Regions from separate parts of the Homo sapiens genome. Here regions 2 and 3 are each reported to be linked to region 1. Evidence: microRNA targets listed by miRTarBase, many of them from high-throughput screens and not tested one by one. Region 1 holds a microRNA gene; each other region holds the end of a gene's coding sequence.

What was found. Region 1 holds the annotated microRNA hsa-miR-4470 (UGGCAAACGUGGAAGCCGAGA, at 1,832-1,852, shown strand). A microRNA usually pairs through its seed, bases 2 to 8, with sites in the 3' UTR of a target mRNA and lowers its output. Matches are read on the target gene's strand: a 7mer-m8 pairs with bases 2 to 8, a 7mer-A1 pairs with bases 2 to 7 and ends in A, and an 8mer does both.
Region 2: miRTarBase lists POLR3F as a target of hsa-miR-4470. The part of its 3' UTR that is shown has no 7-base or 8-base seed match.
Region 3: miRTarBase lists ZNF486 as a target of hsa-miR-4470. Seed matches in the 3' UTR shown: 7mer-A1 at 4,267-4,273 and 7mer-A1 at 4,258-4,264.

Annotation. Positions count from the first base shown.
Region 1 is chr8:61,713,001-61,718,869 of GRCh38, forward strand. MIR4470 (microRNA 4470) reads left to right here and starts at 1,788; the gene lies at 1,788-1,859. It overlaps ASPH (aspartate beta-hydroxylase), which reads right to left and starts at 1,592. Exons shown (of 25, transcript NM_004318.4): 1 at 1,269-1,592. The coding sequence starts at 1,371. RefSeq lists silencers at 962-1,391, 1,432-1,801.
Region 2 is chr20:18,482,785-18,488,653 of GRCh38, reverse strand. It overlaps POLR3F (RNA polymerase III subunit F), which reads right to left. Exons shown (of 9, transcript NM_006466.4): 9 at 4,008-5,173. The coding sequence ends at 5,096. RBBP9 (RB binding protein 9, serine hydrolase) reads left to right here. Exons shown (of 5, transcript NM_006606.3): 5 at 1-2,114. It also overlaps the pseudogene RPL21P3. Among named protein-coding and RNA genes, the nearest start is that of RBBP9, 12 kb to the left of the region's middle.
Region 3 is chr19:20,197,120-20,202,988 of GRCh38, reverse strand. ZNF486 (zinc finger protein 486) reads right to left here. Exons shown (of 4, transcript NM_052852.4): 4 at 2,501-5,869. The coding sequence ends at 4,887. All of the region lies in intron 5 of LOC105372310 (a long non-coding RNA gene), which reads left to right. It also overlaps the pseudogene LOC100419841. Among named protein-coding and RNA genes, the nearest start is that of ZNF486, 33 kb to the right of the region's middle.

The DNA of each region.
Region 1 (5,869 bases):
GCAATTAATCTATCCCTCTGCAGGTTTAAGTAAGTGACATTTAAGAACAAGTGAAAAAGGAACACAAACTTTCACTTATGTCAAAGGTGAATTAATATGCTTGCATTGAACTTCAAACTGTGTCTACATCTTTACTTTTAGAATACAAATATTAGTCCTTAGAATGTAAATTTGTGCAATGGATTTAATGCACTACTTTCCCCATTTAAATCCATTCATTCATTCACTACTCAAATATTTATTGAGCACCTATTATGGGAAAGGAACATTCTAGGAGCTGGGGATACAGAGAGAATGAGCCAAAGACAACACACATGAAAGTAATAAGACAAGTTCAGATAGTGACAAGTGCTATAAAGAAAATACTTCTTTGACTATAGCTGATTCATTTTCTTGGTATATTATGAATGCATGATCTGAAGATCTCAGAAAACAAAGAGTCTAAATCACTTCAAGTGAAGTTTACAGCTCACATTCCATACACATGTGTATTGCAGTTTCAATATCCCAAATATGAGTCAAAGGAAGTATAAAAGAAACCAAGAATCACTGAAATATGAGACGAAACAGATTTAAAAATCTGTTCTCTCTGCTGGATATGCACACGGACGAGGAGAAAGGTGAATATCCAATCGATTTTTATTTTAAGTAAAAGTGGTAAAAATACAGACGCTCGTTCAGTATTTCATGACATTCTATTTTAAAGGCAACTGCAACGCATATTAAGAAAGCTACATACAAGCAAAAATATTTAAAATAATTTCTGAGAGCATTCAAATCACTCCCAACTTCTTCCCTCCCCCTGCCCCCCGGCGCCCCCATTTTCACCTCCTTTGAGTTGCTCTGAAACGCTGCTGGTTAGGCAGGAACTCACTTTCCCTGACTTTGGCTCATTTTCAACTCCCCAAAACACGCAAGGCAAACGATAAATTGTTCTCTTACTCCCATGTTCAATTCCACGGAAAGCCAAGAAACAGTCGTTCAGCAACCTCTGTCTCGGCTGCGCCCTGCAGGTGAAGGAACCGCTGGGAAGGGGCTCCCCGAGACTAGCATCCCGAGGGCTCGGACCCCGGTCCGCCTGGCCCCTCGCCCGCCCGCCAGGCCCGCCGAATGCGGCCTCCGCCCCGCGCGCCTAAAGGAGGAGCGTCGCGGGGGATGGAGGCGGCGCGCGGTGGGACCTGGGGAGATGCACCCGCAGCGTCCGCCGCGCCAGCCGGCTCCCTACCCCGAGGCGAGGCCCCAGATCCCCGCCCCGCAGGGCCTCTGACCTCTCCGGGCCCCGGGGCTGCTGCTGCCCGCACTCGTGCTACCGCTGCCGGAGCCGCTGCTGCTGCTGTTGCCGCTGCTCTTGGCATTCTTACGCTGGGCCATTGCACGGTCCGCGGGGGCTGGTGAGGGCTGGCGGACCTCCTTCAGTGCGCGGGGGTACACACGCGACGCGGGAACCGCTGGCGGCGGCGGGCCGCTGGAGCGGGTTCGGGCCGCTGCTCCTGCAGCAGACCCTGTGCCTCAGCACCGCCTGCAGCACCTGGGAAGACTTCACCCGCCTGCCGGCTGCGCGCGCCCGGCCTCGCGTGTACGAACCTGTGACTCCCTCCCGGGGCGAGAGCGCGCGGCTCGCCGCCCGACGGCCACGCCCCTTCCCGGCCTCGCCCCGCCCCCGGAAGGCTGAGTGACGGCGCCTGGGACCCAATCGCAAGGGCCCTTACGAGGCGGCGGTACCCTGCCGCGCTCCCCGCCCCTGCTCACTTAGGGCTGTTCGGGCGCTACGCAGCTGCCTGTGAGCGCGAGCCTCTTTCGGCTTTCCAGTTTGTCTCGGTCCTTTGGAACGTGGCAAACGTGGAAGCCGAGAGGGCTCTCGCGAGCGTTGGCAGACCCCGCTCCATAGGGATGGGACAGGGCGCGGTGCGGAATAGGTGGACACGTGGGCCGCCCGTGGGCGGAGTGCGCCGCTTCTAGGCCTTTCACTGTGGATTTTGTCCCCTTTCCGTATACAAGGAAAGGAAGGAGTGCAGTCTCGCTTCTTGCGAAAGAGATCCCTATTTCTTGTCCTGATTAATACTAAGACATTTCTGGAATGGTGATATTAGGACTAGTTCAATGCTTAAACCGTAGTAGTTCATCCATTTGGTGCTGAAGCAGGAATTTAGTTCGTTTGTGCCATCAGTATTTTCAGATACTCTTAGTTAAGGAATGAAAATGCAAATGTGACACAAAAAGTTCATTTTCTTACCCTGGATGGCACCCTCTGTCTGAAATCCCTGGCTGCTTTGCTAACGCCTGGGCCTGTGCTGCCTGAGAATTCCCAACAGAGTATTAAAATGTCTTGGCACGTGGTTGAACCAGACAAGGACTTGAGATCAGCGACGTCTTTATCATCTTTGTGTCACCATTGCTAACACCATGCCCAATGTGTAACAGGCAAGCAAGAAATGCTTAGTGATTTGATACATTTCTGTCAATTGCTGAACCCACAGCTCTTGATCATGTTTCGTAGCAACCCCTGGGAGTGTCTCAGGAGGGCTCAGGGACCAGAGAGAGCAGTTGCATTGTGGCATCTGGTTTCATTCCTCTTTTCCAGCCCCACAAACCCACCCACCCGCGCCTTCAGAAGCACTCCCGCCTCCCCCCGGCCCCATGCCTTTTCACCTGTGGATGGTTGGATGCTGCTTGACCCTGCCCTGATGATGCACAGAAACCCCCCAAAGGTCATGTTGCAGAATAAAGAGAATGCCTTTCTTTACCTTTTGTCAAATAGTGTTAGGCTATTATCAAGAGACGGTGGGAGGGGAGAGTTCACAGAGTTTTTATTGAAGTAGCTCTCTCAGCTTTTATCTTGTGGCATCTCCTTCTGCATCCATATATCCTTTCTCCCATTCAGGGCCCCCTTACAACCCTCTATTATATTATCTCAATGAAGGAGGTGGAGAACTGGATTAAGAAATAAATCTGAGTGATGGTGCTTCATATAAAATAAAAATGAGAGCTAAATTTCAAAACACAATGCTCTAGCCACCCCCCACCCCCCACACCAAAGATATTTTTACCCTTAAATTCTCACAAAACCCTGTAGTCATATCAATTTTTTAAAGAAATTAGATACTGGAAGCTCAGAGAGATAAAACAAAGTAGGGTCACTGTATTAGTCCGTTTTCACACTGCAGATAAAGACATATCCCAGACTGGAAAGAAAAAGGGGTTTAATTGGAGTTACAGTTCCACATGGCTGGGGAGGCCTCAGAATCATGGCAGGAGGTGAAAGGCACTTCTTACATGGAGGTGGCAAGAGAAAATGAGGAAGAAGTAAAAGCAGAAACCCCCAATAAACCCATTAGGTTTCATGAGAATTAATTCACTATCACGAGAATAGCACAGGAAAGACCGGCCCCCATGATTCAATTACCTCCCTCTGGGTTCTTCCCAAAACACATGGGAATTCTGAGAGATACAATTTGATGTTGAGATTTGAATGGGATCACAGCCAAACTATATCATTCTGCCCCAGTCCCTCCAAATTTCATGCCCTCACATTTCAGAACCAATCATGTTTTCCCAACAGTCCCCCAAAGCCTTAACTCATTTCAGCATTAACCCAAAAGTCCACAGTCCAAAGTCTCATCTGAGACAAGGCAAGTCCCTTCTACCTAAGAGCCTGTAAAATCAAAAGTAAGCTAGTTACTTCTTAGATACAATGAGGGTACAGGTATTGGGTAAATACAGCCATTTCAAATGGGAGAAATTGGCCAAAACAGCGGGGTTACAGGGCCCATGCAAGTCTGAATTCGAGTGGGGCAGTCAAATTTTAAAGCTCCAGAATTATCTCCTTTGACTCCAGGTCTCATATCCAGGTCACTCTGATGCAAGAGGTGGGTTCCCATGGTTTTGGGCAGCTGCATCCCTGTGGCTTTGCAGGGTACAGCCTCCCTCCCAGCTGCTTTCACGGGCTGATATTGAGTGTCTGCGGCTTTTCCAGGTGCACAGTGCAAGCTGTCAGTGGATCTACCATTCTGGGGTCTAGAGGATGGTAGCAGTCTTCTCACAGCTCCACTAGGCAGTGACCCAGTATGGACTCTGTGTGGGGGCTCTGACCCCACATTTCCCTTCTGCACTGCCCTAGCAGAGGTTCTCCATGAGGGCCCTGTCCCTGCAGCAAACTTTTGCCTGGGCATCCAGGCGTTTCCATACATCTTCTGAAATCTAGGCGGAGGTTCCCAAACCTCAATTCTTGACTTCTGTGCACCTATAGGCTCAACACCACGTGGAAGTTGCCAAGGCTTGGAGCTTCCACCTTCTGAAGCCACAGTCTGAGCTGTACGTTGGAGCCTTTCAGCCACAGCTGGAGTGGCTGGGACAGTCACAAAGCTAGTAAGTGATAGAGGAGGGATGTGAACTTGGTTGGACTGGCTCCAGAGTCTATACTCCAAATTATTCCTCCTGGATAAGACATAGTTTTGAGTGGAGAAAGTCTCACCTGGCTCCCTTTTCGGTTAATGGATGTCTCCAGGAAGCCTCCTTGGTCCTACCTTCAAAGATAGGTCTGAAACCCAGTGGTAAGTGCTTATCAAAGCCTATCTTTTTAAGGAAATCAAATTTGTTTTATAGCTAACTCCAAAATGCCATTAAGTGATGCTTTGCTCCTGCATTTCCAGAAACTAAATCTGGTACCCCTGACAAGGTACATTGCTGTGTATCTTGGGCAATATCAGGCCAAAATAGAGGTTTTAGTAAATATGAATCACAGAAAGAAAGAGGCTACCTAGCGCTTTCTTGTATCCTGAGGAAACAACTATGATAACATTTATGTGCTCAGTATTATCGAATAAAACTTAAATCAGATGCCATCAGTTCTAGACACAGTTTCATTTCAGGGACTGAATTCCCTCAAGCTAAGTAACAGAACTATACATTTTATATCTGTCTGTACTTCCCATATTATGGGCATCAAAAAACGCAAAGCTTACTTAGGATTCATATATTTCTTTACAAAGGACATTTTCTCAGCATGGTTGTGAAAAAGACAAAGTATCTTAGTATCTTTTAAATTAAAGGAGAAGTCAAATGTCCCTTGTTAGCTTTTCCTCTTTTCTGTAATTTTCAAGCAAACTATGGGTGAAATAATGTTAAAAGGACCATAAAGACAAGACTTATCTAGGACAATTTATTAAAATACTAATTTAATAGAGCTTTTGAACTAGGTCAAATGTGTCTTTCAGGTATTTCCATAAACCTTCCACTGCCTTCAGTGGGATTTGCAAGTGAGAACTGGAGGACACGATTTGCCCTACTTCTTTTTTTTCCATTCTGATGACCCTTTACAACCTCCAGTCAAATTCCTTCCAAATTAATATTTCTGGACTTACTTATACCTACTATAGCATCGTTTTAAAAATTCCACTTTAACCTGCTTCCTAGAAAATGCCTCTCATTTTTATGCAATCTTCCTACTGTGAAGTTTTATTATTGCAAACTGGAACTGAGTATTTCCTCATCTTTATTTGCCATAGTAAGACCATAGTGGAAAACAATAAATTTCAACTGGTCATGATTCATTTATATGTTTTTCATATTATATTAGTGAAATTTGTTGCAACGAAAGGATATTGGTAAGTATAGGAGGATTTTGAAGGCATTCCCTACTCAGTGTTTTCAAAGCAATTATCCTCATATGAGTCATATCTCAACACGTAAATGAACTGTCATTTTCACCAAACAGCTTGACTTCAGATTATCTAGAAAAAATAAGCCTGACTAATATCTACATCATAAATAAATAGAATAAATTTATATGAGCAGAAGTGATTTTAAATCCAGTCTAAAATGGATTTGAGTTAGTACTATTGTGTTACGATATGGTAAAATGATCTGAAGT
Region 2 (5,869 bases), not on the chromosome of region 1:
TAAACCTTTTAACTTCCATGGCCCTTTAGATCTCTTTCAAGCACATTCCATTTTCTTCTGATCATACTTCCTCAGAAAACCTTTTTTTGGCTGGGTGTGGTGGCTCATGCCTGTAATCCCAGCACTGTGGGAGGCTGAGGTGGTTGTATTGCTTGAGGCCAGGTGTTTGAGGCCAGCCAGGGCAACACAGCAAGACCCCATCTCTACAAAATATTAAAACATTAGCTAGGCATGGTGGTGCACACCTGTAGTCCTAGCTTCTTGGGAGGCTGAGGCAGGATTGCTTGAGCCCAGGAGTTTGAGCCTTCAGTGAGCTATGATCGCGCCACTGTACTCCATCCTGGGTGATGGAGCGAAGAACCTGTCTCTTAAAAAAAAAAATTTTTTTTTAATTAAAAAAACCCACCCTTTTTCATTTCCCAACATTTTTTGGCTATTATGATCGCTATGTGTTCCTTCAAATAATTTCCAGTGAATCCACACTTGATGTTGCAAAGCCTAAGTTTGCTGCAGAAATACAATTTCCTACACTTCATACCTAAAGGAGATTCAGAGCTATCGCTCAAAACCAAAAGTCTTGGTTTTTAAATGTGCTTAGACAAAAAAAATCAGGAAAGGTACCCTAATCGTTCAACAGCAATCATCTTTGGGGAATGGGCATTTTGGTAGGTAAAGTGTGGTGGACGTCCTTATTATTATTTTTGAGACAGTGTCTTGCTCTGTCTCCCAGGCTGGAGGTCAGTGGCACAAATCTCAGCTCACTCTAACCTGCACCTCCCGGGTTCAAGTGATTCTCATCTCAGCCTCCCAAGTAGTGTGAACTAAAGGCATGTGCCACCACGCCTGGCTAATTTTTGTATTTTTAGTAGAGACAGGGTTTCACCATGTTGGCCAGGCTGGTCTCGAACTCCTGGCCTCAAGTGATCCACCCACCTCAGCCGCCCAAAGTGTTGGGATTACAGGCATGAGCCACCATGCCCGGCCCCTTATTTTACTTTATCCTCCTGATTATTTGAATTTGTTACACTAAGCATGTATTTTATAATCAAAAATAATTAAGATTTAAAACAATGTATTTGACTACTAAAAAGCAAATTATATAAATCAGTTGAATAATAATGTTGTTAAAGAGGCTGTTTAGCACTAATTTGACCAAATCTATAGTCAAAGTTTGATTCTACTTGAATTTTTTGGAAATTTGCTGTTGTATTACTTATTCTTTGCCTTGTTCTCTGTGAAGTCCTTTCCTAAAAAAGAAACTTATACAATTTAGTTCACAAAACTTTGTTGACCTCTTTCTCTGTAGAAATGAAAACTAAATATATATAATTGAGAAATAATTCTGATACTCTTCATTCCTATAAAAGTAATTAAGATAGACCTATAGGATTGTTGAACTTTGCTGCCAAATATAGTAACCAGTAACCACAGCTAGCTGTAAAATTGAAAATTCAGTTCAGTCAAACTAGCCATATTTCAAGTGCTCAACAGCCACTGGTGGCTATTGGTTACCTTACTGACCAGCCAATATAGGCTATTTCCGTCATTATAGAAAGCTCTATTGGACAACATTGGTCTAGGACATATATTTTGTATTTTCCCCTCACCCACCATCCAATAATGAGTAATAGCACAAAGTAAAAGTGACTTAATTTGAAATTACTTCTGTTTGGCTAGTTTGCTTAGCTGATCACCACCAACATCATAGGTCTATAAATCACCCAACTAAGATCAGGGGTGTTTCATGGGAAAATCTACACAAACTATTCATTAAAAACCATAGAGCCATGGACTGTCATTTCTGATTTCTGTTTGATTCTTTGTGGTCATCATTGAATATACAGGGGCCTCTATACACTCTGGGGAGTATCTATTCTCAGGTGAGCAAAATACCGAATACTGAATGGAAATCAACTGTAAGTATTAGGACTTCATATGCAACTTGAATTTTTGGTGCTGTCCGGAGTCTAGAGCCCCACAATCTGTTTTGGTTACAGTTTATCCCTGTAGGATAAATGATCCATTTAACTATTCATCAGAGGTGCTGTAATTTTAAATTGTCTCTTGTCTCCTTCAGTTAATTTTCAGAATTAAAAACATACCATGGGAAAAAAGCTTGAAGTTTCTCTTTATTGGTGAGGTAAGGAATACTTTTGTTTTAGCCATTGAATGTTAAGCTCTAAAAACCAATCTTTAGCTATAAAGACATAAGACAAAGTCTATATTTAAAACATACAAGCTGGTTTCTTCTCATTTCTAGCTCTCTTCCAAGTTCATTTTTCTTACTACATAAAACTAGTGCCTTTTTGATAGGCCAAGTCCCAGGAAGGACAGACATTGTTCTTACCATTCCAACTCTCACTGAGGGTGGAAGAGAAACCCTCTGTCTGTAGTTTCAGGTTCCCAGATCCTTCATATATATATATATATATATATATATATATATATATATATATATATATATATATATATATTTATATTTACATATATATATATTTATATTTACATATATATTTTTATATATATTTATATATATATTTATATTTATATATATTTATATATATAATTTTTTACAGTCCAGAGATCTTTTATTAACACTTATTATGCCATGAATTCATACGGAATAAGTTCCAGCAGCTCAGGCTCCTTCCCATTGGTTCTCACAAAGTGTGCTTCTCTGGGTGGAGCAGGCTGGCACTTCAGTTGAACCCAGGTAACTTTCTCTCTTTTTTTTTTTTGGAGACGGAATCTCGCTGTCACCAGGCTGGAGTGCAGTGGCGCGATCTCAGCTCACTGCAACCTCCGCCTCCCAGGTTCAAGCGATTCTCCTGCTTCAGCCTCCTGAATAGTTGGGACTACAGGTGTGCGCTACCATGCCCAGATAATTTTTGTATTTTTAGTAGAGACAGGGTTTTACCATATTGGCCAGGATGGTCTCGATCTCTTCACCTCGTGATCTGCCCGCCTGAGCCTCCCAAAGTGCTGGGATTACAGGCGTGAGCCACCATCCCTGGCAAACCCAGGTACCTTTCTCTTTGGCTTCTTTTTTTTTTCTGATCATTTTCCTCATGCATTTCAGGAAGCTATCTCGGCTCTTAGAGTGCTTCATGTGCTCAGTATGCACATTAATGCTCTTGGCAAGAATATTGCCCTTGTTTATTTACAACAATGCCAACAGCATGCTGGGTAACACTGTAGACTCTTCCAGTTTTGCCATGGTAACACTTGTGGGGCATTCCTTTTTGAACAGTACCCATTCCCTTGATGTCTACAATATCACCTTTCTTATAGATTCGCATATACGTGACCAAAGGAACAACTCCATGTTTTCTAAAAGTCCTAGAGAACATATATCGGGTGCCTCTCCTCTTTCCGTTTGTGTTCATCATTTTGGCAAATTACTGGAAGATGGGGGTTCTGGCCAAAAGGCTGTGTATCTTATATATGTATGTATATTCAATACTTGAAATAATTTTTGTTACAAAGAGCTAGTGTCATCAAATGCTAATTCACAGAATGTGGCCTGAATTTTATTTTACTGATACCATTTATCTTAAAATAACTCTTCTGATATCCACTTAGAGCATCTCCAAACTGGTATTAGAACCCAACCCTCAGTACTAGTGGAGCTTGAATTCCTTTCCATGGGTCCCATGTTTTTGGCTTGGATACAGAAACTTCTAAGTGGAGCTACAAAGTGAAAATATGAAGCTGCAATTCTAAAAAGCCGCACAGTCAACTTCTGTGCAACAATACATCAAATAACCTAGTGTTTTCTATGTGGCTGACCATAGGAACTGAAAGTGTTATTAGAACTGAGGACAATTATAATGGCTTTCTGCTTAGACACATCACACCATGATTTAGAACAGAATAAGGAAGGGAAATAAATCTAAAACAGAGTAAGAGAAAAAGAATGTTATCCCCTCTCTCAAAATAAAGTGTGAATGGAGGGCACGGAGTATATTTAGTTTCAGTTAATGCTATAACAGAATACCATAGACTGGTGGTTTATCAACAACAGAAATTTATTTCTCACAATTCTGGAGGCTGAGAAGTCCAAGATCAAGGTGCTTACAGATTTGTTTTCTGGTGAGGACCCACTTCCTGGTTCGTGGATGTTTGTCTTCTCCCTTTCACATGGCAGAAGGGGTGATGGAGCTCTCTGGGTCTCTTTATATAAGGGCACTAATCCCATTCATGAGCGCTGTTACTCTCCTGACCTATCACTTACCAAAAGCCCCACCTCCAAATACCATCACATTGGAAATGAGATTTCAACATTAGAATTCTGGGGGCACACAAACATTCAGTCTACTGCAGACATTAAATAAGAATCTAGGGTAAATTCTAACAAAGAATACATTTGAGTTAAAGAGTGAAACATAAGACTTTAAGAAAGAAGGAACAGTGAAAATATTCTTTAGAATGAAAATGATAGTATTTATGTACTGAAAATATGTCCTTGACAGTAGTCATTGGGTTTGAAGTAAGTATGGTAGCATAATCTCCTAAAAGAACATTTCTGATACAAAAAGGAATTAATATTGTGCGGAAAAGGCATGTTCCACTCTCCCCCAGTCATACCCCAAGTTTGCACTCTTTGCTATTCCTGCCTTTAACCCCTTCTAATTTCTTTTCAATGAAACCACTGAGAAAGTAGGAAACAGAAAATGGTGGTAGTGAACCAGATATAAAAAAAAACTTCCAATGAAGAACTTAATAAATAACTTTAAAAAGAACATTTTTATACTCTAGCCATTATCATAGTACTTGGTAAATACGGGTATGTTGGCATCTTTTTCCTTGACCCATCAGAAGTCTTGAAAGATGTGGTCCTCCGGAGTTTCAAAGTGTTTTATTTATTGAAGAATGAATTTCACTACTAACCTTATTTCTTTCATATTCTACTGGCTATTTTACCAATATAAATTTAGTCTTCATAAATAAAAAAAATATGTTTTCATAGCAGCAAGTCTACGTCCATTATTGTGAAGTTTGCTTTCAAGGAGATTTCGTGTTCCATCATGAATTAAATTATCTGCTCCCTAAGTAACTTCATTTGCAAAATGTCAATAAAGTTCATAGCTCTCTATTAAAATTCGAGCCACTCTGTCATGTAAATACAGTTAGATGGTGAAATCTCACCACCTTCGTGGCAGTCATCAAAAACCTTTAAAAAAGAAAAAAAAATTATATTCAAATTAAAGTTTTAAAATATCTAAGACCCAACCACTTATTTAAAGCAAGATTAAAAACAAAACTTTCAAACTGAAAGGGACTAGGACTGTACTTAAGAACATATTATAGCCGGACGCAGTGGCTCACACCTGTAATCCCAGCACTTTGGGAGGCCGAGGTGGGTGGTCAAGACCATCCTGGCTAACATGGTGAAACCCCGTCTCTACTAAGAATACAAAAATTAGCTGAGCGTGGTGGCAGGCACCTGTAATCCCAGCTACTCGGGAGGCTGAGGCAGGAGAATTGCTTGAACCTGGGAGGCAGAGGTTGTAGTGAGCCAAGATCGTGCCACTGCACTCCAGCCTGGGCGACAGCAAGACTCCATCTCGGGGGGCGAGGGGGGAGCGGGAAGAACATACTATAATAGGGCCTGCTTTGTGATCATCAAGTTAGGAGTAGTAGAGAGGCTTTTTTTACTGTGGCATTAAGATGACCATGCTCACCTGTCTGCTGGGCAAAAGGCTATCACCAGGTAACACAGGAATATGGGCAGGGAGACCTATACATATGAATGACTTAATTTTGATTAACCAAATGTTTCATGTTTAGCTACCTTTTTGTGAAGGGTGCAAAACAGAATTCCTAATATGTTAGCCTTTTGTCTAGGGACTGAAACCAAGGCATAGAG
Region 3 (5,869 bases), not on the chromosome of region 1:
CTGAGTAGCTAGGATTACAGACGTGTGCCACCATGACTGCCTATTTTTTTGGTATTTTTGTAGAGACAGGGTTTCACCATGTTTGCCATGCTGGTCTCAAACTCCTGACCTCGTGATCTGCCCGTCTCAGCAGATCTCAGCAAAGTGCTGGGATTAAAGGCATCAGCCACTGTGCCCAGCCAATAAAGGCATTTTTGTCAGGGATGGCCGATGTTTTTTGCTGTAAGGGGATATAAAATTAGGGAACTTTTAATCTTTCATCTTACTGATGTCACTCGCCCTCTACATTTTGACTATTTTCTATTTCAAATTTGTCTGTAATTTTAGATTTATTTATGACAATATGCTAGAATTTGCATGTTATGCATGAAGTAAATTACATAATTAGTAGGCACTCCATATTTACCAAAATAATTACTTATAAATTTAAGTTTGCTGCAGGCAAAAAGGAATTACAGGGTTTTCATCTACTTTCTTCAGCCTGTATCTGAAGAATAAAATAGTTTATTTCCTAATATTTTCTTTCACGTATCAAGGTGCCTAATCCTGTTCTTCAAAGTATATATTTATATTTTCTATGTTTAACAATTTAAGTCTATTCTTTGCTTCTAAATTTGGATTTCAGCAGTTTCATTTTGTGTGAGAACAGCATATATTTTAAACATAACAAGTAACCCTAGTTTCTTTTAAATGCTTATTTATTAAAAACTTCTCTTTAGAATCTTCTATTTATAATTCTTTGGAAAAAAAAAAAAAGGTTTTGGCCGGGTGCAGTGGCTCACGCCTGTAATCCCAGCACTTTGGGAGGCCAAGGCGGGTGGATCATGAGGTCAGGAGATCAAGACCATCCTGGCTAACACGGCGAAACCCCGTCTCTACTAAAAATACAAAAAATTAGCTGGGCGTGGTGGCGGGCGCCTGTAGTCCCAGCTACTCGGAAGGCTGAGGCAGGAGAACAGCGTGAACCCGGGATGCGGAGCTTGCAGTGAGCCGAGATCGCACCACTGCACTCCACCCCACCCTGGGCAACAGAGAGAGACTCCGTGAAAGTTTTCTGCTGCTTTTGTTATCTACATAAACAAAGATATCACCTGCAAATAATGAACTAATTTCCAGTTTTATTCATTACAAATATTAACTTTTTTTCTGGCATATTTTTCCTTTATGCACCATTTTATACATTCACACACACATAGGACAATAAAAATATATCTAATTATTTAATTTTGGTTGAATTTTCATTAAAACAAGTGTTAACTATGATTATTTGTTTTCTGTTTGAAGAGGGCTTTTATTGTTGTACTCAAGAGCGTTGTTTCTGGAGACAAAGCTGCCTGTACTTTAATAGACAGATTCTGAAAAAAATTTGAAACATAAGCCATAAAATTTTATATTAATAAATTCAAGACAAAGCAGAAAGCATAGATTTGCTTTCAGCATTCTCAAGGAGCTTAGTTTTTTATTAGCCACCTTATTAAAATAATTTGTTTTGTTCCAATAATTGTTCTTTTCTTCTGAAAATATGTACAATCTCATGCTCACACAAACACACTCCATAAGTTTCTTACATCTAAGGTTTATCTTCAGAGTAATATGTGTATATTTAACTGATGTAAATTAACACTGAAAGTCTACATTTGCAGGCAAAGACCACATGTTCAAAGAAAACCATATAACAAACATTTATTAATAAGTTTTCAGTATATGTATGATTTCTATTTCTTTTTTTCTTGAGATTGAGTCTGTTGCCCAGGCTGGAGTGAAGTGGTGCAATCTCAGCTCAGTGCAACCTCCAGCTCCCAGTTACAAGTGAATCTCCTGCCTCAGCCTCCAAACATGCACCACAATGCCCAACTATATTTTGTATTTTTAGTAGACGAGGTTTCACCACGTTGGCCAGGCCAGTCTTGAACTCCTGACCTCAGGCAATCCACCTGCCTTGTCCTCCCAAAGTATTGGGATTACAGGCATGAGCCACTGGGCCTGGCTGTATTTTATTTATATTTCTGTATAATTTTTATTATGATCATAAAAATAACCCTGTAGTCAATAACAATTTATTGTACATTTTAAAATAACTAAAAGTATATAATTACACTGTTTTTAATACAAAGGATAAATGCTAGAGGTGATAGATACCTTATTTACCCTAATGTAGTTACTACATATTATAGGCCTGAATCAAAATATGCCATATAAAGCATAAATATATACATATACTATATACTCACAAATACTAATAATAAATTTCAGTAAGAAAAGAGAATAAAAATTTAACCTATGGGAACAATATTCTTAAATTCATTTGCTGTTTAAAGCCACTGGCAAAGTGATTACTAGAGACATTATTCCATTATGTACCAAATAGTATATTGCTACCATCTTTTACCTACACCTTTGAGTAAGGTGGGATAGGTTAGTGGCATAATAATGCTTCATTAAATGCACAATAGTCTTAACATGGTAAAAAACATAAAATTAAATTCACACATAATCTAACAATTTTTAAATGCACTGCATTTTATTACATAAAAGTACAATAAGTAAAATATACGAATTTAGTTTAATATACTTTTATCAATAATTATTTCTTGCACTATAATGTAGAAAAGTATTACTCTGACCTACCTTATACATTACTTCATATAGGTTAACTACAAAGAGCCTCTCCACTTATATTTTCATCATGCATCTTACATTTTAATGTCCTTACTTTTATAGAAAAGGTCATAAATGCCCAATTAATAAAAAACTATCTCTAATATCTCTGATGCAGCAAAAATTGATCACATGCTTTCACATGTGAATACAATAAGAATAAAATAACAGCATAAAGTAATTTGAAAGCTGTATTATGTCATTACCCACTTTTCAGAAAAATTTTTTTAAGGAAACAAATACACTTTTTTTTTTGAGATGGAGTCTTGCTCTGTTGCCCAGGCTGGACAATGGTGCAACCTCGGCTCACTGCAACCTCCACCTCCCAGGTTCAAGCAATTCCAATTCTCTGCCTCAGCCTCCCAAGCAGCTGGGATTATACGCGCCGGCCACCATGCATGGCTAATTTTTGTATTTTTAGTACAGACAGGGTTTCACCATCTTGGCCAAGATGGTCTTGAACTCCTGACCTCGTGATCCACCTGCCTTGGCCTCCCAAAGTGTTGGGATTACAGGCATGAGCCACCACACGCAGCTGGAACAAGTATACTTTTAATGTAATTACAATGCTTCCAAAAATCTGCTTTTAAAGTTATACACAAATAAATTTTTTTTTTTCCTGGAGACAGAGTTTCACTCTTATTGCCCAGGCTGGAGTGCAATGATCTCGACTCACCACAACCTCTGCCTCCAGGGTTCAAGCCTCCTGAGTAGCTGGGATTACAGGCATGTGCCACCATGCATGGCTAATTTTATATTTTCAGTAGAGACTGGGTTTCTCCGTTTTGGTCAGTCTGATCTCAAACTCCCGACATCAGGTGATCCTCCCACCTTGGCCTCCCAAAGTGCTGGGATTACAGGCATGAGCCACTGTGCCCAGCCACAAATAATTTATCTAAGAAGTGTTTCCAAACTCATTACATTTGCAGGAATCTTCTTCAATATACATTCCCTGATGTTGCACAAAGTTTGGCAACCGCTTTAGGGTTTCCTTCTAATACAAAACGCGGGCAATAAGATCTGTAATACAAGCAAAGGTACTACAAACCTCTTTATATTTGTAATGCTTGTCTTCAGAATCAATACTCTTCTTCACCTTAAAGGCTTATATTTTCTGAAAGATTTTTGTCACAGTAATTGCTCTTTTATGAACCTTCTTCTGTTGAGTAAGATGTGATGGACATTAATGGCTTTTCCATATTCTTTATATTTGTACAATTTTTCTCAAGGATAATAGCTTTCCTGTGAAATACGGTGTAAGCACTGATTAAAAGTTTTGCCACATTCTTCATACTTGTAGGTATTTTGGAAGTATGAATTACCTACAATAAAGTGTGGCAACCATATAAAGGCTTTGTCACATTTCATACATTTCTATGGTGTAGTATAATTTTTTTTATGCATAGAAAAGTTGGAGGTGTTGGGAAAAGCACTGTCACATCTTTCAGGTTTGTAAAGTTCCTCTTCACCATGAATTATCGCCATGTCTCTTAAGAATTAAGAGCTTATGGCTGGGAATTGAGGCTCATGCCTGTCATCCCAGCACTTTAGGAAGCCGAGGCGAGTGGATCACCTGAGGTCAGGAGTTTGAGACCAGCCTGGCAAATATGGCAAAAGCCCATCTCTACTAAAAATACAAAAATTAGCTGGGAATGGTGGTGGCACCTGTAATCCCAGCTACTTGGGAGGCTGAGGCAGGAGAATGGCTTGAACCCAGGAGGCAGAGGTCACAGTAAGCCAAGATCATGCCATTGCACTACAGCCCGGGTCACAAGAGTGAAACTGCATCTCAAAAAATAAATAAACAAATAAAAATAAAAGAATTGAGAACTTGTTACAGGCTTGCCACATTCTTCACACTTGTAGGGTTTCTGTCCAGTATGAATTATGTGTAATAAGGGTTGAGAACTTCCTTAAAAAGCTTTGTCAGCCAGGCACAGTGGCTCATGCCTGTAACCCCAACACTTTGGGAGGCCAAAGCAGGCAGACCACCTGAGGTTAGGAGATTGAGACCAGCCTGACCAACATGGAGAAACCCCATCTCTACTAAAAATACAAAATTAGCCAGGTGTGGTGGTGCAGCCCTGTAATCCTAGCTACTAAGGAGAGTTACTTGAACCCAGAAGGTGGAGGTTGTGGTGAGCCAAAATTATGCCATTGCACTCCAGCCTGGGAAACAACAGCAGAATTACCTCTCAAAAAAATAATAATAATAAAATAATCCTTTGTCACGTTCTTGGTTTCTGTCCAATATGAATTCTCTTATGTTTATTAAGGTCTGAGGACCAGTTAAAAGCTTTGCCACATTCTTTACATTTGTAAGGTTTCTCTCCAGTATGAGTTGTCTTATGTTCAGTTAGATTTGAGGATGTAGTATACGCTTTGCCACATTCTTCACATTTGTAGGGTTTCTCTCCAGTATGAGTTCTCCTATGTTTATGGAGGCCTGCAGACCATGTAAAGGCTTTGCCACATTCTTCACATTTGTATGGTTTCTCTCCAGTATGAATTATCTTATGCATAGTAAGGTGTGAGGAGCGGGTGAAGGCTTTGCCACATTCTTCACATTTGTAGGGTTTCTCTCCCGTATGAATCTTCTCATGTTTACTAAGGATCGAGGATGAAATAAAGGCTTTGCCACATTTATCACACGTGTACGGTTTCTCTCCAGTATGAATTTTCTTATGTGAAGAAAGAGTTGCAGGATGGTTAAAAGCTTTGTCACATTCTTTACATTTGTAGGGTTGCTCTCCAGTATGGATTATCTTATGTGTAGTAAGGGTATAGGGGTACATAAAGGCTTTGCCACATTCTTCACAAATGTAGGGTTTCTCTCCACTATGAATTTTCTTATGTGTAGTAAAGCTAGAGAAGTACTTAAAGACTTTGCCACATTCTTCACATTTGTAGGGTTTCTCTCTAGTATGAGTTATCTTATGTGTAGTAAGGTGTGAGGACCGGTTGAAGGCTTTGCCACATTCTTCACATTTGTATGGTTTCTCTCCAGTATCAATTTTTTTATGTGTAGTATGGGTTGAGGACTGGTTAAAAGCTTTGTCACCTTCTATATATTTCAAAGGTTTTTTTTCAGTATGTCTTCTTTTATGTCTCTTTGAATTTGAAAATTGATGAAAGACTTTCACATATTTACCACATTGAAATATTTTGCTCTGGGTAGTTGTCAAACATTGGTTAAGTCCATTATAACCTC